Linked DNA regions of Homo sapiens. The protein of the gene in region 3 purifies or fractionates together with the protein of the main gene of each other region. This does not show direct contact. Each region holds a gene or a part of one and is shown on either strand. Other genes may lie near its edges. The genes, in order: NAT14, TNFRSF10B, HEPACAM2 and NDFIP1.

Region 1 (7,212 bases), on a different chromosome or scaffold from region 3:
AGGGACCCTGCCTGTCTGGAGAGGGAGGGAGCAGACTCCTACAGGCAGTGCTTGCTCTCTTGAAGGCGGGCCCCAGCCTTCTCAGACCTGGCTAGCCTCCTAAGGAGGGTGGCCACAGTTTGCTGGGGAGTTTCCATTTCAGCACTGAAAGTGCAGCATCGCTGGCACCTGCTCAAGTCCCAAGCAAACTGGGACCATTGGAGACCCTCATCCTAAGGAAGGTCCCCTGCAAAGTGGGTGACCTGGGGAGGTAGTCCCTGTCCCTTAAAGAGCCCGTGTGTGGGTTTGGGGTTGAGATGATCCAGTGCGGGGGTGAGCCGCTGACCCAGAATCCCTCCCCCAGGTGTGATGGTCGGCTCCCACGCGGACATGGCGCCGGCCTCTACTGCGGAGGGGGCCGGGGAGAAGCCAGGCCCTGCGGCCCCTGCCCCGGCGGCCCAGTACGAATGTGGGGAGTGTGGCAAGTCATTCCGGTGGTCGTCCCGGCTCCTGCACCACCAGCGCACGCACACAGGCGAGCGGCCCTACAAGTGCCCAGACTGCCCCAAGGCTTTCAAAGGCTCCTCGGCCCTGCTCTACCACCAGCGAGGCCACACGGGCGAGCGGCCCTACCAGTGCCCCGACTGTCCCAAGGCCTTCAAGCGCTCCTCTCTGCTGCAGATCCACCGTAGCGTGCACACCGGCCTGCGGGCCTTCATCTGCGGCCAGTGCGGCCTGGCCTTCAAGTGGTCGTCCCACTACCAGTACCACTTAAGGCAGCACACAGGCGAGCGCCCCTACCCGTGCCCGGACTGCCCCAAGGCCTTCAAGAACTCGTCCAGCCTGCGGCGCCACCGCCACGTGCACACCGGCGAGCGGCCCTACACCTGTGGAGTCTGCGGGAAGAGCTTCACGCAGAGCACCAACCTGCGGCAGCACCAGCGCGTGCACACGGGCGAGCGGCCCTTCCGCTGCCCGCTCTGCCCCAAGACCTTCACCCACTCCTCCAACCTGCTGCTGCACCAGCGCACGCACGGCGCCGCCCCCGCCCCGGGTACCGCCTCCGCGGCCCCGCCCCCCCAGTCCCGGGAGCCCGGCAAGGTCTTCGTGTGCGACGCCTACCTGCAGCGGCACCTCCAGCCCCACAGCCCGCCCGCGCCTCCCGCCCCGCCGCCCCCGCCCCCGCCCGTGGTGCCTGAGCTCTTTTTGGCGGCGGCGGAGACCACGGTGGAGCTGGTGTACCGCTGCGATGGCTGCGAGCAGGGATTCAGCAGCGAGGAGCTGCTCCTGGAGCACCAGCCGTGCCCCGGGCCCGATGCGGCGCCCCAGCCCCAGGAGGCACCCGCCGAGGCGCCCAAGGCCGACCAGCCACCGTCCCCTCTGCCGCAGCCCCCTCCTCCCGCCGCCGCCCCCGCGCCTGGCTTTGCCTGTCTGCCCTGCGGCAAGTCCTTCCGGACGGTGGCTGGGCTCTCCCGCCACCAGCACAGCCACGGGGCTGCCGGCGGGCAAGCGTTCCGCTGCGGCAGCTGCGACGGCTCCTTCCCGCAGCTGGCCAGCCTCCTGGCGCATCAGCAGTGCCACGTGGAAGAGGCCGCGGCCGGGCGCCCGCCCCCGCAGGCTGAGGCTGCGGAGGTGACCTGCCCCCAGGAACCGCTGGCGCCTGCCGCCCCCGTCCCGCCGCCACCCCCGTCCGCCCCCGCTTCTGCGGAGCGGCCCTACAAATGTGCCGAGTGCGGCAAGTCCTTCAAGGGCTCCTCCGGGCTGCGCTACCACCTGCGGGACCACACGGGCGAGCGGCCCTACCAGTGTGGCGAGTGCGGCAAGGCCTTCAAGCGCTCCTCCCTGCTGGCCATCCACCAGCGGGTGCACACGGGCCTGCGGGCCTTCACCTGTGGCCAGTGCGGCCTCACCTTCAAGTGGTCGTCCCACTACCAGTACCACCTGCGGCTGCACTCTGGCGAGCGGCCCTACGCCTGCGGGGAGTGTGGCAAGGCCTTCCGCAACACGTCGTGCCTGCGTCGCCACCGCCACGTGCACACTGGCGAGAGGCCCCACGCCTGCGGTGTCTGCGGCAAGAGCTTCGCGCAGACCTCCAACCTGCGGCAGCACCAGCGCGTGCACACGGGCGAGCGGCCCTTCCGCTGCCCGCTCTGCCCCAAGACCTTCACCCACTCCTCCAACCTGCTGCTGCACCAGCGCACGCACTCGGCGGAGCGCCCCTTCACCTGCCCCATCTGCGGTCGCGGCTTCGTTATGGCCGCCTATCTGCAGCGGCACCTGAGGACGCACGCCCCGGCCAACACGCCTCCCAGCACCACAGCCCCTGCCGCCGGCCCCCAGCCCCCTGCTCCACTGGCTGCTGCGCGGGCCCCGCCAGCCACCCAAGATGTCCACGTCCTGCCCCACCTCCAGGCCACGCTCTCCCTCGAGGTGGCGGGGGGCACGGCCCAGGCCCCGAGCTTGGGGCCAGCAGCGCCCAACTCTCAGACGTTCCTCCTGGTGCAAACTGCCCAGGGCCTCCAGCTGATCCCCAGCAGCGTGCAGCCCCCTACACCTCCGCCCCCTCCCGCACCTCCCAAGCTCATCCTGCTGCCCTCCTCCAGTGCTGGGGCTGGGGGCGGCCGTGCAAGGCAGGGCCCGCGGGCAGTGGGGAAAGCGGGCCAGGGGGCGGGAGTGGTCTGGCTGCCAGGCCCTGGGGGTCTAGGGGTGCAGGGAGCGGCCAGCGCTGGGGCCAGCGGGACAGGGCAGAGCCTCATCGTTCTGCAGAATGTGGGGGGTGGGGAGGCAGGGCCACAGGAAATGAGTGGGGTGCAGCTCCAGCCCCTCCGACCAGCCCCAGAAGTAACCACGGTCCAGCTCCAGCCAGCGCAGGAGGTGACCACAGTCCAGCTCCAGCCAGCACAGGAAGTAACCACGGTCCAGCTCCAGCCAGCACAGGAGGTGACCACGGTCCAGCTCCAGCCCGTGGCCGGCCAGCTCTCCAATTCCAGTGGGGGAGCTGTGGCTACTGAGGCACCCAACCTGCTGGTTGTTCAGAGCGGGGCAGCTGAGGAGTTGCTCACTGGCCCGGGCCCCGGGGAGGCGGGGGATGGCGAGGCCAGCACTGGTGTGGTCCAGGATGTCCTCTTTGAGACACTCCAGACGGACGAGGGCTTGCAGAGCGTGCTGGTGCTGAGCGGGGCCGATGGCGAACAGACTCGACTCTGCGTACAGGAGGTAGAAACACTTCCTCCTGGGCTGACGGAGCCGCCTGCCACCGGCCCACCCGGACAGAAACTCCTCATCATCCGCAGCGCCCCAGCCACTGAGCTGCTGGACAGCAGCAACACTGGAGGAGGCACCGCCACGCTGCAGCTCCTGGCCCCACCGCCGTCAGGCCCAGCCTCGGGCCCCGCGGGGCTCCCCGGGGCTCCAGCCTCCCAGATGGTGCAAGTGGTCCCCGCAGGAGCTGGGCCTGGTGTTATGACCCCTCAGGGCCTGCCCTCCATCCAGATTGTCCAGACTCTACCCGCAGTCCAGCTGGTGCACACGTTTTGAGGAGAGGCAGTGATTCCCCTCCCGCCCCGCACAGAGACCCCGACTCACTGCCAGCCGGGGCGGGGCAGGGTGCCGCAGGCTGGGCTTGCTAATAAAGACCCGAGTCTCCCCGCCTGTGTTTTGTTTTCCTGGGGGGAGGGAAGGGGGCAAAGTCATGGTCCTAGCCCCCGCCTGGGAGCGTGGAGTCTTAAGTCTTGCGTCCTGGGTCGCAGATGGCTTGTTCTGCATCCTGGGGCCAGCCACTACGTAGGGCTCAGTTCCCCTGTCCTGAAACCAAAAAAGGCCGCAGGGGTCATTATAGTGGGGAGGTGGTGACATCAGACTCCAGGGAGTGCTACTTGTTCACTGTAGGTCGCCCCGCTGCCCCCCTCGTGTGAGAAGTAGGGGGATCCTTATGCGGAAGGGTTCTGCGACCCCGGGCGCCCCGTGGGTGGAGTGGGGTCCCTGGGGATGGGGGAGTCGGGCGCCAGGATGCTGAGCGTGGCCGGCTCCTCCCGCGAAGGCCCCGGCACGGATGAGAATCCACGCGCTGGCGTCGCCGCCCGGCGCTCAGGTTGCTCAGCAACGAGGGAACGTGGGGCGGGAGCTCGCGCTGGTCCCCAGCCCGCCGCCCGTCTCCTGCCGGCTTCCGCTCCCGTTCTTCCCCAGGTCCCCTTTCCCCGTTGCTCCTTCTCTAGGGATAGGAGAGGTCGCTTCCCGGCCCTCCGCAGGGTCACAGCTCGGTTCCTCCCAGCCCGCCCTCCGGGGAGCTTAGCAACGGTTGCTACGGCCCGGAGCGGGCGCCGCCCCGCCCCACCGCGCGCGGTCTGACGTCACTTCCGCCCGCGACCCCCTTCCAGACCCGCTCCCGAAACCTTGTCGAAGGACCAAAGGCGACCGGTGCAGGTGCTTGCTGGTCCTTGTTCTTGTGGCGCGGGACGGGGACGACTGTGGGGGAGGGGGCGCTGGGGACCGGGGTGGAGCGAGCGTGGTCCGTTCTCTGGCATGTGGGGAGGGTGTTCGTGGACCCCAGTGCCTGGGAGGGAGCCCCGTGCTGCAGTGTTGGCGTCCGCAGCGCGTTTGGGAGTGTAGATCGCTGAATAATACGGGGGAGGGGGGATCCCGGGAGACTTTAGCAAGGTCGCTGAGTATTGTGGGGGGCGCCTGTCCTGCCGAGATCCTCGCTTGGGGGCCCCGAGGGTTCTCAGTGTCCTGATCTGGGAAGTGCCGTTGCTGCTCCCTACCCCTCGGGGGAGCTTTGGGGACAGAGGTGCCCCCCTGACGCTGACCTACTTATGTTCTCACCAGGTGCACGACGCCAGCTCCCTTCTGGGGGGCCGGGGCCTGGGGGTTGCCATGGCCCCCAGCCACCTGTCAGTGCGGGAGATGAGGGAAGATGAGAAGCCCCTGGTGCTGGAGATGCTGAAGGTGAGAGGCAGGGGCCCCAGGGGGCCTGGGAGTGGCTGCAGTGGGGGAATTGCAAGTGGATTCAGCCACCCCCTCCCACCCACCTGAGCCAGCCTGGACCCCTGGAGCGGGATCTTTTCCTCCTGAGCCTCAGCCGCCCTGCTGCTGAAAACCACAGCAGGTGTGGCAGGTGGGGGCTCACCCCCCCAGCCCTACTGGGACCCCAGCACCAACGCCCTCCCTGGTCTCCCATCTCCAGTCGGCTGTGCACGCCAGCACAACAGCCAGCTCTGTGCCTCGGACCCCAACTCTTCAAAGCACAGCCCAGCACCCCAACCTAGCCCAGCAGCCTCCCTCCAGCCTCCACTCCAGCCTGAGGCAACCTCCCTGTCCTTACTTCCCTGGGGCCTCACTGCGGCATTGCTACTGAATTGAGTGCCCCCACAGCTCCTAATTCACTCATCCATCCATCATTCGCTCTCGTTCATTCATTCACTCCATACCCAGTGTGCCACACTGAACATCGGACTGTGCTGCCTTCCCTTCCCATTTGGGAGCTCTCACCCCGCCCCGGGCAGGGTCTACCTCCTCTCTTTGTCCAGGAGGCCCTAGCGTTTCGGATGGCTGAGCCACCCCTCCTGCCCACAGGCCGGCGTGAAGGACACGGAAAACCGCGTGGCCCTCCATGCCTTGACACGGCCGCCGGCCCTGCTCCTCCTGGCGGCGGCCAGCAGCGGCCTGCGCTTTGTCCTGGCTTCCTTCGCCCTGGCCCTCCTCCTGCCGGTGTTCCTGGCTGTGGCCGCCGTGAAGCTGGGCCTGCGGGCCCGATGGGGCTCGCTGCCTCCGCCGGGTGGCCTGGGGGGCCCCTGGGTGGCCGTGCGGGGCTCCGGTGACGTGTGTGGGGTCCTGGCTCTGGCCCCTGGCACAAATGCAGGGGACGGGGCCCGGGTCACCCGCCTGTCTGTCTCTCGCTGGCACCGCCGCCGGGGCGTGGGCAGGAGGCTGCTGGCCTTCGCGGAGGCCCGGGCTCGGGCCTGGGCTGGGGGCATGGGGGAGCCCCGGGCCCGGCTCGTGGTCCCCGTGGCTGTGGCCGCCTGGGGGGTGGGAGGGATGCTGGAGGGCTGTGGCTACCAGGCCGAGGGGGGCTGGGGCTGCCTGGGCTACACGCTGGTGAGGGAATTCAGCAAAGACCTGTGAAGCTACAGACTGACAGCCAGGGCAGGGGAGGAGGGAGGGGCGCCAGCACCTGATGATCGCCTACTGTCTGCGGGTTCTTTTACCTGCTCTCCCTCAGTGAGTCCTCAACCACCCTGGGCCCAGAAACAGAGGCCTGCCGAGGGGAGGAGCCTGGCCTCTGTCCACCCGTCAGCAGTGTGAAGTCTGTTGTGTTTGAGCTTCTCAGAGTGGAATGACTCCTTTTCCTTCCTGGCCCTCGGGGGCCTCTCGAGGTCAGCCTCTCCAACCCCTACCTCAGCTCCTGTCTGCACTGAGAAACCTCCCCGGGTGATGTCTGCAAAGTCTGTGCTGTCCGTGCCCCAGGCTGGGAGAGCTATCTGGGGAGGGGGAGAGGAGGCCGAGCAGAATACACCCCAGAGTTAGGGTTTGCGACTCCGCCTCCCTGGGACCTGGATTGGGTCAGATGCCTGTCCTTGGAGGGGACAAGGTTGACTGCTTAGGAGGCGCGACGCACAGGGCTGCCAGGCCTGGCCCCTCTCTGGGAAGGTTGAGAGCTGAGACGGGCAGCCCTGTCCCTTCCTCCAGATCCGTCTGGTTTTTTACACCGTTTGTTAATAAAGCCTGAAACCGCTGTGTGCCTGTCTCTTCTCTGATGGCTTTCCCAGTCTGTCTCCGGACACCCCCGCCCATTTCTGTCTGGCTTCTCCTTTCCCCAGTTAACATTAATTGTTGGGGGACGGTGCTGGACTGGGAGAAGGGGAGGCTGTGAGCTCAGGGGCAGCCCGAGGCCCTGCCAGCCCTTCTGAGTCACGCTCCCCATTACCGAATTTTTTCCGCCTCACAGCTGCCTGGTGTGCAGGCAGTGGGGTGTGTGTGTGTGTGTGTGAGTGTGTGGAAGAGTGTGTGGAGCCCCTCCCCTTCCCAAGCCTTGACCCTTGTGCTGCTTATCCCCCGACCCCAGCTCCCTCTGGGACAGTGAAGTTCAACCTCTCCTCTCTCAGCTGGGGACTGGGGGCTTCACACTCAGATCCACCAGTGAGTGGGAGGACTGGAGGGCCGGGTCTTTCAGTCTCTTTTCCTAACCCAGGAAGTCCCTCCTGGTGTCTGGCTGCAAATCTTCTTGCTGCTGCACCA
Region 2 (7,596 bases), on a different chromosome or scaffold from region 3:
TCAACAGAAACAGTGGCCGTAATAACAGATATAATGGTGTTGATAGATTAAATAACTTAAAACAGGTCATCTAAAGCTTACAAATATACTCAAGAATATTTAAAAAACAGAAAAACAAAAAACACCACCACCAAAATCATAGGTTGCGCACGGTGGCTCAGGCCTGTAATCCCAATACTTTGGGAGGACAAGGTGGGAGGATTCCTTGAGCGCAGGAGTTTGAGACCAGCCTGGGCAACATGGTGAAACCCCGTCTCTACTAAAAATACAAAAATTAGCCAGGTGTGGTTGCAAGTGCCTGTGGTCCCAGCTACTTGGGAGGCCGAGGTGGGAGGATCACTTGAGCCCAAGAGGTTGAGGCTGCAGTGAACTCTGACTGTGCCACTGCACTCCAGCCTGGGTGACAGAGTAAGACCCTGTCTCAAAAAAGAAAAACACAAAGATGACCAGGAAATAGATGGAAGATATTAAAAATGCCAAAAGAGAACTTCTAAAGTTCAAAAAATATATATCTGATATACAGTAGATGAGATTAACAGCAGGTTAGATTCTGCAGAAGCAGATCAATGAACTTGAAGAGCCCTCACAGGGAAATGTCCAAAGTGAAACATAGAAAATGATGGGGGAAAAAAAAGAACAGATACTAAGTTAGCTCTGATACAAAATCTAACATTCTAACGTAAATATAATAAGATCTCAGTCACCAGAAGAGACAGAGTATTTGAAGAAATAATGGCTGAAAATCTTCCAAGTAGAACATAAACTCGGCTGGGCGTGGTGGCTCACCCCTGTAATCCCAGCATTTTGGGAGGCTGAGGCGGGCAGATCACGAGCCAGACCATCCTGGCTAACACGGTGAAACCCCGTCTCTACTAAAAATACAAAAAGTTCGCTGGGCGTGGTGGTGCATGCCTGTAGTCCCAGCTACACGGGATGCTGAGGCAGGAGAATGGCGTGAACCCAGGAGGCAGAGGTTGCAGTGAGCTGAGATCCCACCACTGCACTCCAGCCTAGGCGACAGAGGCAAGACTCCATCTCAAAACAAACAAACAAACAAACAAAAACATAAACTCTAAAACCCCAAATCCAAGAAATTCAACATAACTCTGTTGTGGCTTTCTTTCTTTCTTTTTTTTGAGTTGGAGTCTTGCTCTTGTCTCCCAGGCTGGAGTGCAGTGGCGCCATCTCTGCTCACTGCAACTTCTGCCTCCCAGGTTCAAGTGATTCTCCTGCCTCAACCTCCCAAGTAGCTGGGATTGCAGGTGCCCACCACCACACCCAGCTAATTTTGTATTTTTAGTAGAGACGGGGTTTCACCATGTTGGTCAGGCTGGTCTCGAATCCCTGACCTCATGTGATCTGCCCGCCTCGGCCTCCCAAAGTGCTGGGATTACAGGCATGAGCTACCAGACCCGGCTGTTGTGGCTTTCTTTACAGAAAAGTCTCCAAGGAGAACATAAACTCTAAAACCCCAAATCCAAGAAATTCAACACAACCCAGTTGTGGCTTTCTTTACAGAAAAATCTTCCAAGTAGAAAGAACATGAAAGTCTAAAGCCAAAAATCCAAAAAATTCTTTATAGAGATAAAAAAAAAACCCCACAACAGAGCAAACAAACCAAATCACTGCAAACCAGTGCTAAGAAAAATCTTTAAAAGCAGCCAGAGACCAAAGATCCACCACCCAAAGAGAGGCAAGATGCCCTGGGGACCTAGGCCCACAGAAACCACAGCAGGAGGGGGAGGCAGAGGCCCCTGTACACTCTCCTCACTAGGACAGTTAGGTCCTCCCTCCACTCAGAGGTGAGACCAAGGACATACTGTGGTGTGGGGCGGAAACAGTGAAAACATGAGGTGTGTAACAATATCCCATGAAACTCCAATGCTTCACACTGACATTCTTCTAGGTCAACACCAGCATTCTCTTGACCTTCCTTTCACTGTTCCTCCTCTCCCTTCCAGCCCCTCTGTACAGTCTTGAGTTAGGTCTAGGCCCACACACTTCCCCACTCTGAGCTGCGGTCTCTTCCTCTGTAAAATGTGATGATTCAGAACCTCTCCTGGCCCCAAGCGCAGTTCCAGGCGCTGAGCACACCATGCTGTTCCCTACAAAGCCGACTCTTTGTCCCTTCCCCATTATCACGGATACTTGCCAAGAGGTGGCAAGAAAGGCTCTTCCCAGGCCAAAATGCAGCTGCTATTATCAAGCAGGTCAGGCCCCAAGTGCCACAACTCCCTTCTCCTAAATCTCGTTTTCCCAAGGAACCCCAAACAATGGCATTGGCGATGAGCGGCCCCGCACGCGTAGGGGCGCAGCCGCTAAGGAGGGGAAGGGGCCTCTCCAGCTGCGCCCGCGACGACTCCCGCGCACGGAACGGAACCACTGGGCCGCAGCGACCACAGGGGAGTTCTTCGCCGGCCGCAGGTTCAAAGCGATCTGCAATGAGCGCCTTTAGGAATTCATTCGAAGGCGCAAAAGAAAAAGAAATTAAGGCAGGAACTGAGCGAGGAAGGAAGGGAGGGAAAGAAAGGAAGAAAGAGAAAAAGAGAAAGAAACAGAAAGTAAGGAAAGAAAACAAAATCAAAGTCCGACGACCTCTCCGTGGCTTCACGCAGCTTACTCGGGAATTCCCTCCTTGTCGCCCTCCCCCACTGGATTCGGGAATTTACACCAAGTGGAGCGCGCGCTCTGTTCCCTGGCGGCCCAGGTCGCTCCTGCCCAACCCGGGGACCCATCTCTTCCCCCGACTCCGACGACTGGTGCGTCTTGCCCGGACATGCCCGGCCGCAGGCGACCCGGGCCACGCACCCCCGCCGTGTCCCCCTCTCTCCCTGCCCTCTCCAGGCGCCAGGCACGCTCTTCCCCAGCCAGGGACCGCGGCGGGGACTCACCAACAGCAGGACCGCGGCGACAACGAGCACAAGGGTCTTGGGGACCCGGGGCCCAGGCCTGGCTCCCCGCGCCTCCCTGGGTCCTGGGCCGTGCCTTTTCCGGGCCCCCGAAGCGGCCGGGGCGTTCTGTCCCCGTTGTTCCATGGCGGTAGGGAACGCTCTTATAGTCTCTCAGGCCCGTGGGTTTCAGCCCTTAAAGTAGATCGGGCATCGTCGGTGTATTTTGTGGGCGCAGAGATTGCGGGGTTCTCCGGCCGCGTGCTGATTTATGTGTCCAGGCTGACTTGGGGCGGCGCGGCTGTACTTTCACTGCCTCCGGGCAGGCGTCATTCGGGGCGGGGCGAATCAGATCCAATGTGCAACTGCAAATTCCACCACAGGTTGGTGACAATAAATAAGAGTCTCGTCAACGCAATCCTCCGCAAGCGCGTCCAAGTGGGGAGGGGAGGGGAAGGGACCGGAACTAACCTTCGCCCTGGCGGCTGCGCCCCGGGCTGTGGTTTGTTTCTGGGTCCTGTCCGCGCCAGGACAGGCACCGAAACTTGGGGGAAATGAGTTGAGGGAGGCACTTGGGGAGTTGACGCCTCCCGGGGTCGCGCGCTTGGCTGTGAACAGGGTCTTGAGGTTCAGAGTCCGCTTTCCAGGCGCGTCTTGATCTTCTCCCCTTCCCAGGGGCACCTGCCCCTTCTGTTCTCTCCTTCTCTCTTCTTTCCTTTTTTCTTTCGTTTTCTTTCGTTCTTTCGTCTTCTTTCCGTCCTTCCTGCTTTCTCTTTCCTTCCTTTCTCTCTTTCTCTTTCCTCCCTCCCTCCCCCTCCCCCTACCTCCCTTCCTTGTGGTTTATTTTTTGAGACAGTCTCTCTGTGGCTCAGATTGGTGAGCGGTGGTGTGATCCCGGCTCACTGCAACTTCCGTCTCCCAGGTTCAAGCGATACTCCCACCTCAGCCTCCCATGTAGCTGGGACTACAGGCCTGCACCACCACGCCTGGCTAATTTTTGTATTTTTAGTAGACACAGGGGTTCACTATGTTGGCCAAAAGACCATCGAACCCAGCTTACACTCACACCTAGTCCACAAATGTGCCTGTGTCCCTGCACCCTTGCTACACTTAGCTTTCATTTGTCACTAGTCTAGGAAATAAAACATGATACATCACATTGTTATGTATTTTCATTCCTTCATGGTACTGTGTCCGGAATTGGTGGGTTCTTGGTCTCACTGCCTTCAAGAATGAAGCCTCGGACCCTCGCGGTGAGTGTTACAGTTCTTAAAGGCGGCGTGTCTGGAGTTTGTTCCTTCTGATGTTCGGATGTGTTCGGAGTTTCTTCCTTCTGGTGGGTTCGTGGTCTCACTGGCTCAGGAGTGAAGCTGCAGACCTTCCCAGTGAGTGTTACAGCTCTTAAGGCAGTGGGTCTGGAGTTGTTCTTTCCTCCTGGTGGGCTCGTGGTCTCGCTGGCTTCAAGAGTGAAGCTGCAGACCTTCAAGGTGAGTGTTACAGCTCATAAAGGCAGTGTGGACCCAAAGAGTGAGCAGTAGCAAGATTTATTGCAGAGGGAAAGAAGGAAGCTTCCACAGTGTTACCACTGCTGGCTCTGGCAGCCTGCTTTTATTCTCTTATCTGGCCCCACCCACACCCTGCTGATTGGTAGAGCGGAGTGGTCTGTTTTGACAGGGCGCTGATTGGTGGTTTACAATCCCTGAGCTAGACACAAATGTTCTCCACTTCCCCACCAGATTAGCTAGATACAGAGTGTGGACACAAAGGTTCTCCAAGGCCCCACCAGACTAGCTAGATACAGAGTGTCAATTGGTGCATTCACAAACCCTGAGCTAGACACACGGTGCTGATTGGTGTGTTTACAAAACTTGAGCTAGATACACAGTGCCAATTGGTGTATTTACAATCCCTTAGCTAAACATAAAGGTTCTCCACGTCCCCACCAGACTCAGGAGCCCAGGTGTCGTCACCCAGTGGATCCCGCACCGGGGTTGCAGGTGGAGCTGCCTGCCAGTCCCGCGCCGTGCTCCCGCGCCGTGCGCCCGCACTCCTCAGCCCTTGGGTGGTCGATGGGACTGGGCGCCCTGGAGCAGGGGGAGGTGCTCGTCGGGGAGGCTCCGGCTGCACAGGAGCCCACGGAGGGGGTGAGAGGCTCAGGCATGGCGGTCCCGAGCCCTGCCCGTCGGGAAGGCAGCTAAGGCCCGGCGAGAAATCAAGCGCAGCGCCAGTGGGCCGGCACTGCTGGGGGACCCAGTACACCCTCCGCAGCCGCTGGCCCGGGTGCTAAACCCCTCATTGCCCGGGGCCGGCAGGGCCGGCCGGCTGCTCCGAGTGCAGGGCCCGCCGAGCCCACGCCCACCCGGAACTCCAGCTGGCCCGCAAGTGCCGCGCGCGCAGCCCCGGTTCCCGCTCGCGCCTCTCCCTCCACACCTCCGTGCAAGCTGAGGGAGCGGGCTCCAGCCTTGGCCAGCCCAGAAAAGGGCTCCCACAGTGCAGCGGTGGGCTGAAGGGCTCCTCAAGTGCCGCCAAAGTGGGAGCCCAGGCAGAGGAGGCGCCGAGAGCGAGCGAGGGCTGTTGAGGACTGCCAGCAAGCTGTCACCTCTCAGTACTACGGATTTTCAAGAATACAGGAGTTTTTGGTACTGGGAGTAGATGACTGGGGGGATCCAGGCAAGACTACAGGGGAGGGCGGCAGAGAAGACTTAATTCCCAGCTGTGTACTTGGAAAACCGTGCTCAGCTGGGGCCAGTCCCTGCCAACCGCCATGCCTGTTAATGGAAATAAGGTCTCCATCCTCAGGCTGTCAGGGTGACTTCAGATGAGCCTGGAGCTGAGCTCAGTTCCGGACCCCAGGTCCTGGCTCTGTCAATGCCGGACTGGTCCAATCTCTATGCCAGGTCCTTCCAACCCCATCCCTCTCTTTATCAAAGTAGGAATCAAGAAGATCCGAAGGCTCAGGCTCTCAGGTTGTTAGAGAGTACTGAAATTGGAGGCTGTGGATGGCTGGGCCCTGCCGTGCTCCCGGTCCAGCTCTGACTCTGGTATGGCCCCAGCTCCTTCCTGTAAAATGAGGGGATAAAAATCTTCAGCAGCCCTGTGTAAACTTCTGCAGGCTCTGTTAACAGGTCTAGGAGGACAAATTGCAGGGCTGGTGTCAGTCACTCTAGACTCTGGATCCCCAGGGCACATGTCCTCCACTCAGCAGAGGCTGCACCTTCTCCTACCTGTACCTCAGTACCAGCTCCCTGAGCTTGAGGCAGAAATTTCTGAAGACTGGGGTGGAGCGCCATGCGGAGGGGCCGTAGAGGAACAGACGAGCCAGAATTCAAATGAGGACGGTGATGGCACTGCAGGGCCACAGCCTGGTTTACCTGCCACTCTTCCAATTGTCTTTCTGTTGGGCACCCAGCCGGTGCCCCAGTTTGAAGAGTGAGCAGGAAAGGTCTCAATCCGTGTGGCCACAGATGGCTGTTCACAGCCTCTACTGAGAGACCACAGTCCCAGTTCCGGTTCTCTGTCCTGCATCCAGAAGTGGCAGGGCAGCGAGGCTCTAGCTTCCAGGTTGGGGATGGGGACAGTGGAGACAGTGCCATGCCCTGAGCCTGTGCTGTTGGGCAGCTGGTGTCCTGCTCCCAGCCAGAGACTGCACATCTTCATGTAGTGGATTTTCCTAACAACCTGGGGACATGAGAGTAGGTTGTTTTCCCTGTTTTACAAGTGGCAAAACTGAGATTCAGGAGCAGTGTCTCCAGCATTTTTGGCCTCACCTTCTGTATAATAGCAGCCATATTTGCACCTCTACAGGGCTAGAGTTCTCTGAGCAGCTGCTTCTCTATTCTCTGTCCTGCACTTGGCCTCTGGGAGCTCGTATGGTTCCTCAGCAGAGTCCACAGGGCCCTCCCTGTGCTACAGCCTGGAGCCTGTCAGGCGGTGAGCTGAAGCCACGACTGCACTCACCTCATGGGTTTGCGGGGAGAATGATTCACCCAGGAAGCAGACAGTGAGCCCTTTACTCTGGGAACACCTGTGCCTGGAGTCTGCTGAAGGCAGGGAGGACAAATGAACCCCATGTGAATCCTACTCCCTGGAGCCTACAGTGTGGTGGGAGAGGTGACACCAGGGGTCATATAACTAATAGGAGGTAGCATGAGGGAGGCCTGAGATCTCACCACCCTTGCCTCCCCCTCCTCCAGAGAGGCTGTGCTGGAGGGAGGCCATGCCATTGCAAGGCCATAGGATGTGGTATTGTTTGCCTGGAAGATGTGGTTTGATTACAGCCACCATTGAGGGTCATGGAGGCAAGCTAAGCTCCCTTTAAGGGTATTTTTTTTTTGGCTGGGCCTGAGAATTAAGTTGACATAAGACAGGTCCACAGGAGAAAAGCACACAAATTAATACAATGCAAGTTTTACATGGCACAGAAAAAGCAGTGAGAGTCAGTTACTTATATACTGAATTAGACCAAGTAACTTGGGAAGAAGCAAGTAAATATGTGGAGGCTAAAAAGATGAGTTATTCTATTCTTTTTTTTTTAATATCTGCTCCTTTAAGGAATAAAAAAGACAAGCTTACCTTTTAAAATATATTTTACATATGTATACAATCTAAATTTATTTTTCTCTCTTTATCCCTGAATACTTTATTATTTTTTTTTTAATTTTTTGGAGACAGAGTCTTGCTGTGTCGCCCAGTCTGGAGTGCAGTGGCA
Region 3 (7,418 bases):
AAATACAATACAAATATTGAAGCTCTGAGAAAAAATAACACTACATTAGTAGAAAAAGATATTTAATATAGCGTTTGTGATCATTATTTAGGGGAAAATTAGTTTTGGGGTCTATTTTAGACTGCATCATGTAATAATACCTTAAATAATATATTGCCATCAATATCTCTGAATAGGTTCAGTGCTTTCTTATTAAATGAAAAGTTTTTTTCAAATATGTATGCTTTTTCAAATGTTTGTGTGACAGTGAGAAATAGCACAGCTGTTACAGTAACTATTTGCTTAGAGATTGCCTATACAATTTTTTATCAGATAAATTATAGGTAGCAAGTTATAAGAATGTCAGCAGGGAATGAAATTTTCTTTATACAGTATCTTATCTCAGCCACGTAAAATCTCTTCATTGGACATGAACCTATCAATATGATACAATCTTTGCTTGTAGTGAAATTTGGGAATAAACAGATAATTGAATGCTTCCTCCACATTCTAGGAACACATACTCTCTTATCATTGATGTGTCACCCACTACAGATGTGATGAATTCATGCTGTCAAACACAGTAGTTTACTAATGTGAGAAAACTTAGCTTCATTTTGAGAAATTTTCAAGTGCTCTTTTCTAGTTGTATGAGAAAACCCAAAGGACTAAACCTATTGATTTTAGAAAATCATCCTCTGCATGAACAGATAAACTTCAAGAAAATAAATAATATAAAAAGGTTGGTTGTGGTGGCTAATGCCTGTAATCCCAGGCACTTTAGGGGACTGAGGTGGCAGATTGCTTGAGCCCAGGAGTTTAAGACCAGCTTGGGCAACACAGCGAGACCTCTGTCTCTATTTGAAAAAATACAAAAACAAAAATAATAAATAATATAAAAATTGATGAAATTTAAATTTATTTTTAGTAGTCCAAATATTTGGACTTAAACGGAAATTTAAATTCGATTTTATTATTATATTCACTATTACTTTCTGAGTATAACAAACAAAAACTCTTATAAATTATAGTTCTGTTAAAAAAATCTTGACTTTTTGCATATAAGGCATTACACAAATCTGGAGAAACATTTATAATACTAATCATAATCTGACATACAAAATTGCAGCAATGATCCCTCCTTTACAGACCCTCTTACATTGTATGACAATAGCACTATAAAAAAGTATCCAGTGTTAAGGTACACTTGAAGTCCTACTGTAGAATTTATCTATATTCCAGCAACAAAGGACTCCCTAGACCGGTTTCATTGTATTGAATATAAACATCAGATTTCACAAAGTGACCTCTGCTGTAGCTCAAAATAGCTGGCATTTACTTCCCTGTTATCATGTGTGGTATTAACAAGCATAACACAAGTATTGTTGACTGAAAATAAAATCTTGCATCTTTAGAGAAAATAGAAATTATGATGTGTTTTGAATAAACTGTACAAACTGTACATTTTAGGCTTCAAATTTTTAAAAATTTTTTAAAAAGAAGAAGCAAACAAAACTTCAATATTCCTAAAAGCAAAGATTGCCAAGTCATCTGTGGTCTTTACAACACACTGCCTATGGAGAAAAGCAAATTTGCAGAAGAGAGAAGGTCTTAAGGTATAAAAACTGCTTTAGCTATTTATGAACATGCTATTTTCCTAATGTACATTTGTTTTATTTTAGTTGAATTCCTTAACTAAATTGTCTCTAAGTTCTTCTTAACGCCAGTTTCAAAAACAACACTTATAAAATGATAGTAGTCCTACTGTTTTAAATATAAAAATAAGTGGGATGATGACCCAGGATACTTTCAAAAGGAAGACAAATGCACAAAGGTAGTGACAGTTATAATAATTATTTACTTTTTCAAAAAATTTTAGAAAACAAAAATCTATTATAGGCTTAAATTTGATAACATAAATACTGTGATAACTGGAACAATCACAACTCTGGGAAACTCAAAGACTTAAAAAAATTTACAAACTGTACATTTCAAATGTGTGAGATAGGTACAACAGTAGGTATGAATTTGAATAATAACATTTACAATGCAAACTTTAACAAAATATAGGAGTGAAAGTAAAGCTCTAAATAGCTGAAGAAGCCTAAAAGTTAAATTGCTTATTTTGCTAAGCTGTTCTTAATTTTTAAAAAATGTAGCCTTAATTGAACTCCTATCTGTTGAATATAAACAAAACAAGAAATTGATTTGACTTTTAAAACTGATAAATAGGAAGAATGGAAATGAGAACATCTGGTGAAAATAATGTTGACAGACAGCAGTTGGAATGCTGGAAAGAGACTCCTTTAAACTCAAAAGATAAAGAGGAGAATGAGGGAAAATATTAAGGTAGAAAAAAATTCTTAATAGGACTAGCCATTGGGCAAAGAGAAAAGCTAAAGGCATTTTGGAGTAACAATCTTTTCAAATACGTTCTCCCTTTTGTGTAGGAAATTTTTTTGTTAGTTTGGAATCTTACCTTTCTTCCATATTTCATAAGATGAGACAGATAACTTAAAACGAAGCAGTAAACAGTTTGCAACAATATCTTTAATTAAAAAGAAAACAATTTTCGTAAATTATTTGTAGTTTCACTCTAAGTGGTCACAATTTCATGGCCTATTAGAATATTTGCTGAAATAAATGCATTAAAGACTATTGAACCTATATGTAAACTCTAAAAGAAGAAATTCATTATCTTTTAAAAATATCTGAATTATCTTAATGAGTGCTATGACAATAATTGTTGTTCCAAGAAAACAATAACAATCTATTTATTGAAACTCATTTCTCTTAAATGTTCCTGCTTCTTTGCTGTAACAGTGTGTTATTGTTAAAAGGTTCTGACCTGCTCTTCAATTATCTGAATGCATCTACAGCCTAAAGCAAATATTTACCTTATGTCCACAATTAAAAAAAAAAAACCTAACAAACAGCTAAAACACAATTCACACAGGGCCTTACCGAAGAGAAGGAGGTATATTTTGCACTGAAAGACCCCAAGTGTGTCACCGAAGGGCTCCATGAAAGCATCCTGTCCCATGCATGCAGTGCCCTGTTCTCAGTGGTAACTTGGACCAGCAGCTGCTGGTTTATTTGCTAGGGAAATTAGCAGTGAGGTAACAGACCCTATCTTGCCTCTTGCTTCTGTGATTTGAATACAGAATGAATGTGTATACAAAGGACACAGGGAGTGGGAACACCTGTTATGTGCTTAGCAAGAATACAGGCTTATGGCTTTCAGAAGAGTTTCTTAGCAACTACCAGTAATTGTCTATATATTTCATAAATTATACTTAGTTATTAAAAAATCACATGAAGGAAAACATCCTTTTGCGTGACTTTACTGAAAAATGGCATGTTTTCATAATGAAAGAATATTGTGAGATTTCCTTAAAAACAAAAGCTGGTTTTCTATCATGCAGAACTATGCCATTATTATTTTAAAATTAAAAAAAATTATATGAAAATTGAAGTAGCTCATGTATCTGCTAAACAGTTATAAATCTTCATGAAGTCACTAACATGTAAAAATTCTACCAATGAATCAAAAGAGAGATCCAGAATATATTTAAAACGTATTTTTTCTATGCAGTGTTTCCTATTACAATGACTGATTTCATTTAATCTTTGAATTCATCTTATTTTTAAAAGCAAATCACAGGTGTGTTTCCAACTGGGACTGAGGCATGGACCATGCATAATTATAATGAAAAGTGCATGCCAGGAGATAGTATCTGAGGCCACATTTTCACAGCTGATGCATAGAGGAAGTGAACCAATGATCTAGAAAAGATCTTACCTCTACTGCAGTGTCCAGGTTACAGGTTTTCAACCTGGTCTCTCCATTGTCATGGCAGCAGATAGTCTAAGCATGTCCGCTTAATTTACTAAGTTATTAGTTAACCCCTATTTGCAAGAAGGCTCTGGTTCTAGCCTTGTTATATAAAATGTTAAGGATATATCCAAATCTGCATCAAATCATCAAATCAAGGAAAATTCCTTGCATGCATCAGTTTTAACAGTAAAGGCCCACTGAAGAAGTTCAATGATAAGAGGGGAAGGAAGACTATACCTCAAGCATAATTAAAGTAAAAAAGGAATGATAGTAACTTTGGAATCCAAGTTTGGAAACACTCTTTGCATTAGGGCTCTGAACTCTTCTAGAAGGACTTCTATAAGCAAAGAAAGTAAGTGACTATTGGGAAAACGAAGTCCTCTTCAGAGATCAGTCACTTTCAGATCCCTCCATGCTTCAGAAAAATGGCAAGAGCTCCTCATGCTTCCCCCACCTCCCTGCAAAATAATAACAATGCCACAACTTTCTCTGCACTGTCTCTAAATCTGGTACACACATCTATTGCAGCACTTATCTCCTTAATCTTTATTTTATTGGATGTTTATTTTCCCTCTGAGCTCTCGAATACAGAGAATAATCTTATTCATTCATGGATGTTGGGCACGTAGCATAATGCTTAACTGGTATTTTTGTTAAGTTGTTTCTCCAGAAAACAAAACTCTAAGTGCTCCTTGGCCCGTCTTACGATTCTCAGTTGATGCGTAAGAAATACAAATAAATTTTAATATTGGATTGCACAAAATACAATTTGGAAAGTAATATGGAAGTTCTACAGATATCACATAGGTTCCCCCAACATCTTTTAGATTGATATTAATCTCCAATTGCCGTTATCAAATTAGCTGTTTTCAGTGTTTTTCAATCTAGTGCTGGATTATAATGAAGTTTGTTGGGTCCCTGGCAAAAAGAGAAATAAAGACAATGTACTGTGTTTTTCCCTAGTGTTAAATATACTCAATATAAAGGAGTTTTTTATTCTGAGATTTTCTTTGTTGTATTTGAAAATATTCCCTGTTTCATGACATAAGGTGATAGTAGATGCTACATTAAAAAATAAATGCCATATGAATCTTACTTGTAATCTTTTTATTTCATGGCACATATTGAAATATAATACGGCACATCTAGGGAAAGGGCTACTGGGATAATCATGACAAAGCGCCCTCTAGTGGTAAACTGTAGATATAAACTCTTACCTGCTGGAGTAACTTCTGATTTCAACATGTTTACACAGGAAGTGAGAAAAAGAGTGCTCAAGCTTAACTTCAACAATTGTTAATTTTTACATGATTCTTAAAAATAGTTTGAAGGTTTTATAATTATAAGAATTTTCCTACCATCCATATCTCACATCACACCTGTAACCCACTGGGAAGTTCTGCTGTTATCATTCCAGTCAGGAAAAAAGGGCCTGTAGTGTTACTGTTTACCAATCTTAGTTATATTTGCATTTAAAATGAGAAGGCTGATTAACCTAAAACAATCTATATCCACGGTGATTAAACTGCAAGCAATGTAAGGAGCCACTGGGATAGAGTATGCGTGTGTGTGTCCACGTGCATTTACAATGGGATATGGACACATATACTCCTGTGCAGGAGGGTGTGTGTGTGTGTGTGTGTGTGTATGTGTGTGTATGTTTGTTGGGGGCAGGGATTTTTATTACCTCTCAAATCACACTACACAGTTTACAATCTAGTTTATTTAAATTGCAGACTGGTATTACTTCATACAGTAAATGTCTGCTGCATGCATTTCAAACATCCACATTTTTAATCACAAGTAGCTAGCACACGCATGTTTTGCAGTGGCAGAAACAATTAAGGAGAGGTGGTGAAATGCCAAGGTCAATGTAGATGCAGAACAGTGGGGAATAAGAACTGGGGAAAGAAATGTTTCTTATTGTTGTAATTAGTGGATTCTCTCCAGTTTACAGGGAGAGTTAGCTGCCAGAGGAGGCTATCACATATGCCTATGCCTGTGCTAGTGTTCACTTCTGTAAAGTCTACAAAGCTGCCTCGTGGAAGCCTTGATCTATCTTATATGGCTGCTAAATACTAAGCAGTAATGTCTTCTTCCTGGGCACCTCTTTAGGTCACTACTTTACCTTTGGCAAGTGTTCTGTTTTCTGTTATGGCCTGCTCAAGAAGTGTAGTCATATCATCTTGGAGGGGCTGCATCTCTCCACTGCTTTGGTATTTGTGGAGTGGTAAGAAATTTTATCTTTCTAATCAAACCAGGATCTCAGCTTTTATTTAAGCTTCCAGACATTCCTCCTGTTTTGGGCCATTAGTAATATGCCCTTATCCTACTTTACTACTAATCCTATTGTTCTGAATCAGATCAATTTACTTAACTCTTGGCTCTGCACTCCTTTACCAAGGAATTGGTATCCAGCCAACCTTCCCCAGGATTTGGTGGCAGACCATCTAAACTTTCCATTATTTTGCACTGGACTATCACTAACAACAGCTCTCAGGTAAATGTGAAAGTCCTGAATAAATCTTAAAAATAAATACCTTTTTGAAAATTGGAAAGGAAATAGCAGCATGTCCAACCTTTTAAAAAGTGTTTGTTAGGATGCCAAGTTTTTTGTTTTTTTGAGCGTAGACAGATAGAAATGAATAACGTAAGGTTCAATTATTTCATATAGTGTTAAGGTATGCTGAATTAGAAAATATAGTTTATTTAGACACCAGCGCTGATTTACTTTACAAGCTTTCAATATTATAGTTATAGCCTTAAAACATTTAGAAGACTGTATCCATTTTTATCCATTTCTCCAGTTTGTAGGAAATAAACTAAAATGTAGAGTTTTGGAGTAAAACAAAGTTTCAATACTTTCTTGCGTTTTCAGTGTCGAATAGATAGGGATAACACTCATTTTTCTGAATTTGGCCAATAGAAATACACATATTAGATAAAAAAAACTTTTTGGGGGGATCATCTTTAACTTTGTGTATTTGAGTATGTGAGGGAGAAAATTCCGGGGTTGAATCTGGGTTCTAGTCCTAGATCAAGCTCTCATGAAATATGTGGTCTCGAACCCTTATACAGATACGTTTTCTCATCTTTACAGCATGGATTTGACATGCTAGAGCTGGACTGCCTTTAAGAATCACTGAAGATTTTAAACAAACAAACATCCCCAAAGAAAACAACAATAATAACAGCACACACCTCAGGTGAATCTGAACAGTCAGGTTTGAGATCTACTGAACTCAGATCACCCCTAAGATATGCTTTTAAACCCAGTTGTGAACTCCTTGTGACCACAACCATAGATTATTAATCAAAGTGCTTATTTTAGTGTTGCCTTGAGCGCAACAATCAAGAAATGTTTATTGACTTGGGTTTTATTTTATAGGCTAATATGGCTGGCAGTTTTTGTTTCTTTTGATGCTTTCAGGGACTTCTAAATATTGCAGATTTTCACACACAAAGAACAGTCTGACAATTAAGATTAGAGAAGGTAAAGAATAAACTAAACTAGACTTGCCCTAAATGTGACCAGAATTTCTTGAAGGGGTTAGAAATAACAGAGTCAGAGAAGCATATAGGTAAACATATAATTTCAAAG
Region 4 (7,177 bases), on a different chromosome or scaffold from region 3:
TTTTACTTTGCCTATTCAGTGCCAAAAGCAATTATTATTATTATTAATTTTAAGAGACAGGATCTCACTATGTTGTCCAGGCTGCATTTGAACTCCTGGGCTCAAGCAATCCTCTCACCTCAGCCTCCTGAGTAGATGATACCATTGCCTTCTTTCTAATGAGGCCTGATTTTCTTCCTACTCCTCCAGCCTTGTCTTGACTTTGGAAGCTTTATCATGTATACCAGGGTAATCCCCTTCCCTTGCTGGTTTAGGAATGGGCACAGGATGCCATTCTGACCAGTGGAAATTGAGGGCTTCTGAGAAGCTTTCCTTGCTTCTCAAAGAAAAAAACAGTTCTTTCTAAAGGTGGTAGAAAATTTTTTTTTAAATAGTTCTTTTTCTTCTCTTGAGCACTGTCGTGTTTCAATGTAATACTGATACGTGAAACTGCCATCTTTTAACCCTGAGGGGAGGGGGGACCTGTGCCAATATGCTGATATGTCAGCTGTCCTTGATGATGTCAAAGAACCACTGACTTAACTAACCTTGTCAGGGACTTGTTTTCAGGGGAAATAAAATTTCCCCGTTTAAAAAAACAATTAAAAATTTTTTTCTAAGCCATTTTGAGCTAGGTTTTTGTTACTCACAGTCAAAAGCATCCTACCTGATACAAGTTAATTCATTTAACTTTTTTTTTTTTTTTGAGAAGGAGTCTCGCTCTGTCGCCCAGGCTGGAGTGCAGTGGCACGATCTCGGCTCACTGTAAGCTCCACCTCCTGGGTTCACGCCATTCTCCTTCCTCAGCCTCCCGAGTAGCTGGGACTACAGGCCCCCGCTACCATGTCTGGCTATTTTTTTTGTATTTTTTTAGTAGAGACGGGGTTTCACCATGTTAGCCAGGATGGTCTCGATCTCCTGACTTCGTGATCTGTCCGCCTCGGCCTCCCAAAGTGCTGGGATTACAGGCGTGAGCCACCGCACCCGGCCCATTTGATTCACTTTTTAAATGCAGTTGAAAATTTAGTTTGAAAAAAAAAAAAGACTGGAATTAATTTTATTTCTCTTTTCCTTGGAGGCTTTGGTGTCCAAGAGTTTAATGTAGTTCGAAAAGTAAAATATAGTATTTTCTTTGTTAATAAAGTAACAATTAAAATTTAGGGAAGGAATGAAAACCTCTTTAGGGCTCGAGTTCTTAACCTAAAGTCCATTATTATAGATGAGTACATATTAGCTATGTGGGGGAAAAGCTTACAACTTTCATCAGATTCCCAAAGGATTCTGGAACCCTAAAAACGTTAACAAATGTTTTATAATAAATAAGGTGGCACTACGTAGAAAAACTACAGTGGTCAAGCAACACCCATTAGTTAGTTAAGTATGCCAATTTATGACGGATAAATTGGTTTTGTTTATAAGGTTGACGATAGCAATAAATTTATCTGAAATCAGAGGATACTTTAAAAGCCTAGATCTTTTACAACTGTAAATTACTTCATGCAAATTTAACTAACTGGTAACTCTGAAGTCACTAAAGACATACATCTCTGTAATTTACTTGAGAGGTAGGCTCCTAATGGAGCAATACTTGTTAAACAGTTTTGGCTCCCCAAACATTTTGGCATAAGCAATCCTGGAAGGGAGAGGGGAAGAGAAGGAGAAAAGAAAAGAAGGAAGAAGAGAGCTAGATTAAAACTGTAACAGAATTAATGAGAGGAATGGCTGCTTTTGATGAGATATCAAAGGGGTAATATCCTTCCTTTTATTATAAAAACAACTAATTTCAGAACATATACATTATCATATTATAAACATTAAAAACAAACAAAGCAGATGGTGAACAATATTAATGATAGACCAGTTTTCAATAGATTTGACAACAAAACTTGTGTGCATGAACCATTTGCAAATGATTTTGGTTCAGCTTCATCATGAAACCACAGACAAACCAAAAATCATTTAACACACTGAAATAACTTTTAAAAAAGCAAATGAAAAATCGAATATTCAAAAATATTCTGATTATTGCCTCTCTGTAGAGCCCATCTTTTCTGTTATACAACTTACCCTGACAATCAGGATCCATTTAATTAGAGAGAGACCAAATCCTGAAATGGCCCCATACCTTCCTGCAGCTGAAGTGGTCAGGCAAAAAGACAGGAAAAACCCAATCCAGTTAAAGAGGAATGCCACTGCAAAAGCAGAGGAGGGGAAAGATGTTAGACATGTCCTGTTACCCAAGAACAAGAGTGCCTTACACCTGCCTCTGTTTAAATGACTTTCCAAAGGATAAAAGACAGCCTGTCCTCCACAACCGTCACCATACCTCCTCTAAAACATCCATTCTTCTGTCTTTCCCCAAAAAGCAAACAAGAAAAACTCCTCCCTATCAGGTTTTACACACTTATGTCTACTGCTAGTCACTTTCAAAAACGCCTTAATAGGCTGAGCACAATAGCTCACATCTGTAATCCTAGCACTTTGGGAGGCCAACGTTGGAGGATCCCGAGCCCAGCAGTTTGAGACCAGCCTGAGCACCACAGTGAGACCCATCTCTACAAAAACTGAAAAAAACAAAACAAACAAACAAACAAACAAAAGCCGGGCACAGTGGTGCACACCTGCAAGTCCCAGCTACTTGGGAGGCTGAGGTGGGGGGATCACTTGAGCCCAGGAAGTCAAGGGTACACTGAGAAGTGATCACACCACTGCACTCCAAATTCAGCCTGGGCAACAGAGCAAGACCTTGTCTCAAAAGGAAAAAGCAAAAAAAACAAAAAACAGCAAAAAGCAAACCTTAACATTCACCAAACTGTATACTTACAACCTCTGCTTTTTTTTTTTTTTTTTTTTTTGAGACTGAGTCTCACTCTGTCACCCAGGCTGGAGTGCAGTAGCACGACCTTGGCTCACTGCAATCTCTGCCTCCCAGGTTCAAGTGATTCTCCTGCCTCAGCCTCCCGAGTGGCTGGGACTATAGGCGTGCACCGCCAGGCCCGGCTAACGGCTAATTTTTGTTTTTAGTAGAGATGGGGTTTCTCCATGTTGGCCAGGTTGGTCTTGAACCTCTAGCCCCAGGTGATTCGCCCACCTCAGCCTTCCAAAGTGCTGGGATTACAGGCATGAGCCACTGTGCCCAGCCTTTGACCTCTTTTTTTTTTTTTTTTTTTGAGACGAAGTCTCACTCTTGTCCCCCAGGCTAGAGTGCAATGGTGCGATCTCACCTCACGGCAACCTCTGCCTCCCGGGTTCAATCGATTCTCCTGCCTCAGCCTCCTGAGTAGCTGGGATTACAGGTGCCTGCCACCACACCCAGCTAATTTTTGTATTTTTAGTAGAGATGGGGTTTCACCATGGTGGCCAGGCTGGTCTCGAACTCCTGACCTCAGGGCATCTGCCTGCCTCGGCCTCCCAAAGTGCTGGGATTATAGGCATGAGCCACCATGCCCAGCCTGACCTCTGCTTTTTACTGTGTGTGTTATATATATATAGTCCAGTAAATAAAATAAATGCCTTCAACATTAAATAAGTGCCCCCAAATAATCTGATTCAAGTCACTCATCCTCCTGTTCTCTGAATTTTGACAACTTATATAACATCACCTCTAAAAGCATTGCATTTTCTTATCTTTCTAATACAACAAATAAAGGAAATGGTTGCTCACTTCTATGTGAGGCACACAAAAAGATAAATGGCAAGTAACATGAAGGGAGAAAATCAGGCTGACTTTGATCTGTCAGAAAAAAGAAGCTTTCAGAGCAAAATTCATCAAAGGCATTTAATTCCTATTCTACAGATTAAGTATGAGTAGAAGCAACGCAAAAGGGCCCCGTAGACCTGGAAGATGAGGCTTAGCTCATGTAAAAATGCAGCATCCTCATAACTGCTTTAATTATATTTTCCACAGATATTCATGAAAATAGAAGGCAAAGAGAAGGGATATTAAAACAAAGGTATATTAAGCTTTGAATATTCCAGTAAAAGGCACCAAATAAACATAATGTATTAATATATTAGCTCAACTAGTTATTTTAATTCAGTCAGATTCACCCATAATCCAAAGCACTCTAGTTTGTAGGGGGTGGTTCTGATATGCATACATACTTACTGAAAAAAGTTAACATGAAAATCCCATCATTTCCTATCCTCAGCTGGTCAGCATCATCAAAATCATCCCGACCCACAAAATCCTCATCCTAAATGAAAAGAAAAAGAATTATTTCTAGGCAAAGGGAAGACATAAAGAAAAATGAAGGGTTAAATTTGAGTAGCAAGGAAAAAAGTTATTGCTTTGGTTCAGTTCAAAATTATGAGCATTAAAGGCTCAATGTGTGTTTAAAATTCCATTTTGCATTATTAATATATAATTAGAAAAGAAGCAAATCTTTCTTCTATCCCCAGTGTTCTAAATGAAATTTTCATCTTATAACCCAAGTTCTTTAACAATACACTTCAAAAATTTAATACACTTCAAAAACAATACACTTCAAGAATAGTTCACAAAGAACTATTTACTCTTCCTTTAAAAAAATATACCTCAAGAAAAGACAAAAGACAAAATTTACTTACACATTTGGTTTAAATTCTAGAATATCAGTAATCGAGGACCTGTTTAGGACCTAAAATATTAGTAATTAGAGATAAAATCAGCCAGGTGCAGTGGCTCATGCCTGTAATCCCAGCACTTTGGGAGGCCAAGGCAGGCAGATCACGAGGTCAGGAGATCGAGACCATCCTGGCTAACATGGTGAAACCCGTCTCTACTAAAAATACAAAAAAATTAGCCGGGAGTGGTGGCGGGCACCTGTAGTCCCAGCTACTCGGGAGGCTAAGGCAGGAGAATGGCATGAACCCGGGAGGCAGAGCTTGCAGTGAGCCAAGATCCCACCACTGCACTCCAGCCTGGGCAACAGAGTGAGACTCCGTCTCAAAAAAAAAAAGATAAAATCAACCAGCTCAAGTGCTTTACGAGGCTGATATAGGGGAAAAAAGAATAGTACGATCATACATGAATAGTCCACAGAACTGCCCACTGCTCAACTCCATAAGCATGTATTTGTATTGGTATACAGATCTAAATCTCACTTCTAACCTTATCAGCAGATAAGATCTTTTCCATCCTAACTTGATAACGTAATATTGCAAAACTAGAAATAACATGATCATGAACAATACCAACACATGTGGGCTATCTTTTTAACTGATATAGGTGTGTGTTGAGATATTTAAAAATAATTGAATATATACTTAAAAGTGATAGATTTGTACACAGTTCAATGAGGGCTCCTTAAATGAAAAATATTTTAGGGAATATCAAAACTTGTTGTACACAGAAAAGGGTCTGGAAGACCCAAATTGTTAACAGTGGTTCCCCTGGGGAGTGGGAACTAGAGAAAGGGAAGTCGGTGGCAATGGCAGCTTCCTTTTCTAACTTAACATACTTCCTCTATTGTTTGAAATTTCTATAAAAACGAATTTTTATAATTAATTTTTTAAAACATTAAATACCTAGTATTCTTACTTCGTATCAGCAGAATAAGGTTTTGCCAAAATTAAAAGCTAATTGTTTTTTGCATAACTATTCAAAGATATACTCCAAAAAATATATGGAAGTAACATCTAATAATATTACGAACACCTTCTAACTGTTCTTCCTGTCCTCTTGGTATCTCTTCTACCATGATGCATCCTAGAAATTGCTGCCAAGTTAATGTTTCCAAAACACCACACAAGTCCTCTCATACCCCTGCTCAAAAACTCTGAAGGATTCTCTAAAAGCTACATATGAAGTTTAAATACGCCCATCTAACATTCCAAAGATTCTATAAACAACAGTTGTAGTCAGGACTTTCTATCTCCCTTCACAAACTCTTGCTCATACAAAGCCAATTACTACATCCACAGAACTGCCTTCACCTGGCTGAATTCACACCTGCTTTCTGTGCCTTTTTCCCTCTGGAATGTTCTTACCCATCAAAACTCCGGGCCCACATCAAATCTCATTTTCCCCTATGATCACCCAGTAAAAAGTTTCAGTTCTTGATGCCCACTGCTCTTATGTGTCTTAGTTATCAGTATTTGTGGGCCCTTTACCCTAGTTGGATTTTAGGCTTTTGAATAACAATGAGGAACACTGCCTTATACAAAGCTTTTTACCTATCCACTGTAAAATATACTGCATCTTATATTTAAAAAGTGCTTTATACATGTCTGCTGAATACTAGAGCCCTTTAAGAAGTTCCTAAATATGTACTTGTATCAAATGAAAGTATTCTGAAGAGTTATGTGATTAATCAGAGCTAATTTCCATACTGATCTATTTACCATATATTGCAACAGATCTGCAGAGTACAGTGAAACAAACAAGGACTTTGGATTCTAGAATATCTGGGTTTGACTTTCACTTCTGCTACTTATCAGTCATATGACTTTGGGAAAATTACTTTTTCTCTCTGGACCTAAATTTTCACATCTGTAAAATGGAGATAATATAATCTCTACCTTTCAAGGTTACTATGAAGATTGGAAACAATATACAAAATATATAAAAGCATCAAGCACAGTACCAAGCATGTGGTTTGCTTCCAATATACGGCAGTTACATTATGATGGTCTTGCCCTTAGACACTAGGGTTTTTAGTTTCTCCCTGGTACCTGTAAGAACTGAATGCACATCATCGCCATTTAGGATCATCCTAGATTGGGCTCATAAACTATTTCTACCAAGCAATGATTTTAGGAGCTTCGCTCCTCACAGTAGGTGTGGTCTGCAAACTGTCTACTATCTTAAAGCCAAGAGGGGAACATCTGGGCCTATGCCATCACACTGCCCAGACTAGGCTTCTGTACTTGCTCATCACTCACTCCAGTTACTTGCTAGAATAGAGCCTAGAGGCCTGATGGTCCCCGCATTTCTGGGGACTTATCCTGCTTCCATTCTCCCACAATGCCCTACCTTCATCAGCCTCAATCTGGATGAATATTTACAAAATGACAAATGCAGCACTCACATATCTGACATCAAGAACCAAGAGTGCCCAATAATCTCCACTGGTTTATATGGCATCCCAATCTCCACCTCCATGAATCAACATCAGGCTAGATGGAATCTGAACTCACTATGTCCCCACAAATGACATGATCTGGACTGCTGGAAGAACGGAGTTCATCTAAATCAATGTGAAGATCCCTCTTATGA

What was found.
Region 1: the proteins of HEPACAM2 (region 3) and NAT14 purify together in Homo sapiens (affinity purification with mass spectrometry; 3 studies listed by BioGRID and IntAct, with this or other methods). This does not show direct contact.
Region 2: the proteins of HEPACAM2 (region 3) and TNFRSF10B purify together in Homo sapiens (affinity purification with mass spectrometry; 3 studies listed by BioGRID and IntAct, with this or other methods). This does not show direct contact.
Region 4: the proteins of HEPACAM2 (region 3) and NDFIP1 purify together in Homo sapiens (affinity purification with mass spectrometry; 3 studies listed by BioGRID and IntAct, with this or other methods). This does not show direct contact.

What each region holds. Positions count from the first base shown.
Region 1 is NC_000019.10:55,480,858-55,488,069, forward strand, and holds NAT14 (probable N-acetyltransferase 14), read left to right. Parts: upstream 1-4,330; 5' UTR 4,331-4,401; intron 4,402-4,803; 5' UTR 4,804-4,851; coding exon 4,852-4,923; intron 4,924-5,550; coding exon 5,551-6,099; 3' UTR 6,100-6,709; downstream 6,710-7,212. Other genes in the region: ZNF628 (zinc finger protein 628), read left to right, coding at 344-3,516. UniProt on the Homo sapiens protein: Probable acetyltransferase. May act as a transcription factor that regulates the expression of coproporphyrinogen oxidase by binding to a promoter regulatory element.
Region 2 is NC_000008.11:23,065,860-23,073,455, forward strand, and holds the start of TNFRSF10B (tumor necrosis factor receptor superfamily member 10B isoform 1 precursor), read right to left. Parts: upstream 3,173-7,596; 5' UTR 3,036-3,172; coding exon 2,892-3,035; intron 2,562-2,891; exon of another isoform or gene 2,370-2,561; intron 1-2,369. UniProt on the Homo sapiens protein: Receptor for the cytotoxic ligand TNFSF10/TRAIL. The adapter molecule FADD recruits caspase-8 to the activated receptor.
Region 3 is NC_000007.14:93,223,425-93,230,842, forward strand, and holds the start of HEPACAM2 (HEPACAM family member 2 isoform 1 precursor), read right to left. Parts: upstream 3,046-7,418; 5' UTR 3,023-3,045; coding exon 2,944-3,022; intron 2,528-2,943; coding exon of another isoform or gene 2,459-2,527; intron 1-2,458. UniProt on the Homo sapiens protein: Required during prometaphase for centrosome maturation.
Region 4 is NC_000005.10:142,132,728-142,139,904, reverse strand, and holds part of NDFIP1 (NEDD4 family-interacting protein 1), read right to left. Parts: intron 4,176-7,177; coding exon 4,088-4,175; intron 2,172-4,087; coding exon 2,047-2,171; intron 1-2,046. UniProt on the Homo sapiens protein: Activates HECT domain-containing E3 ubiquitin-protein ligases, including NEDD4 and ITCH, and consequently modulates the stability of their targets. As a result, controls many cellular processes.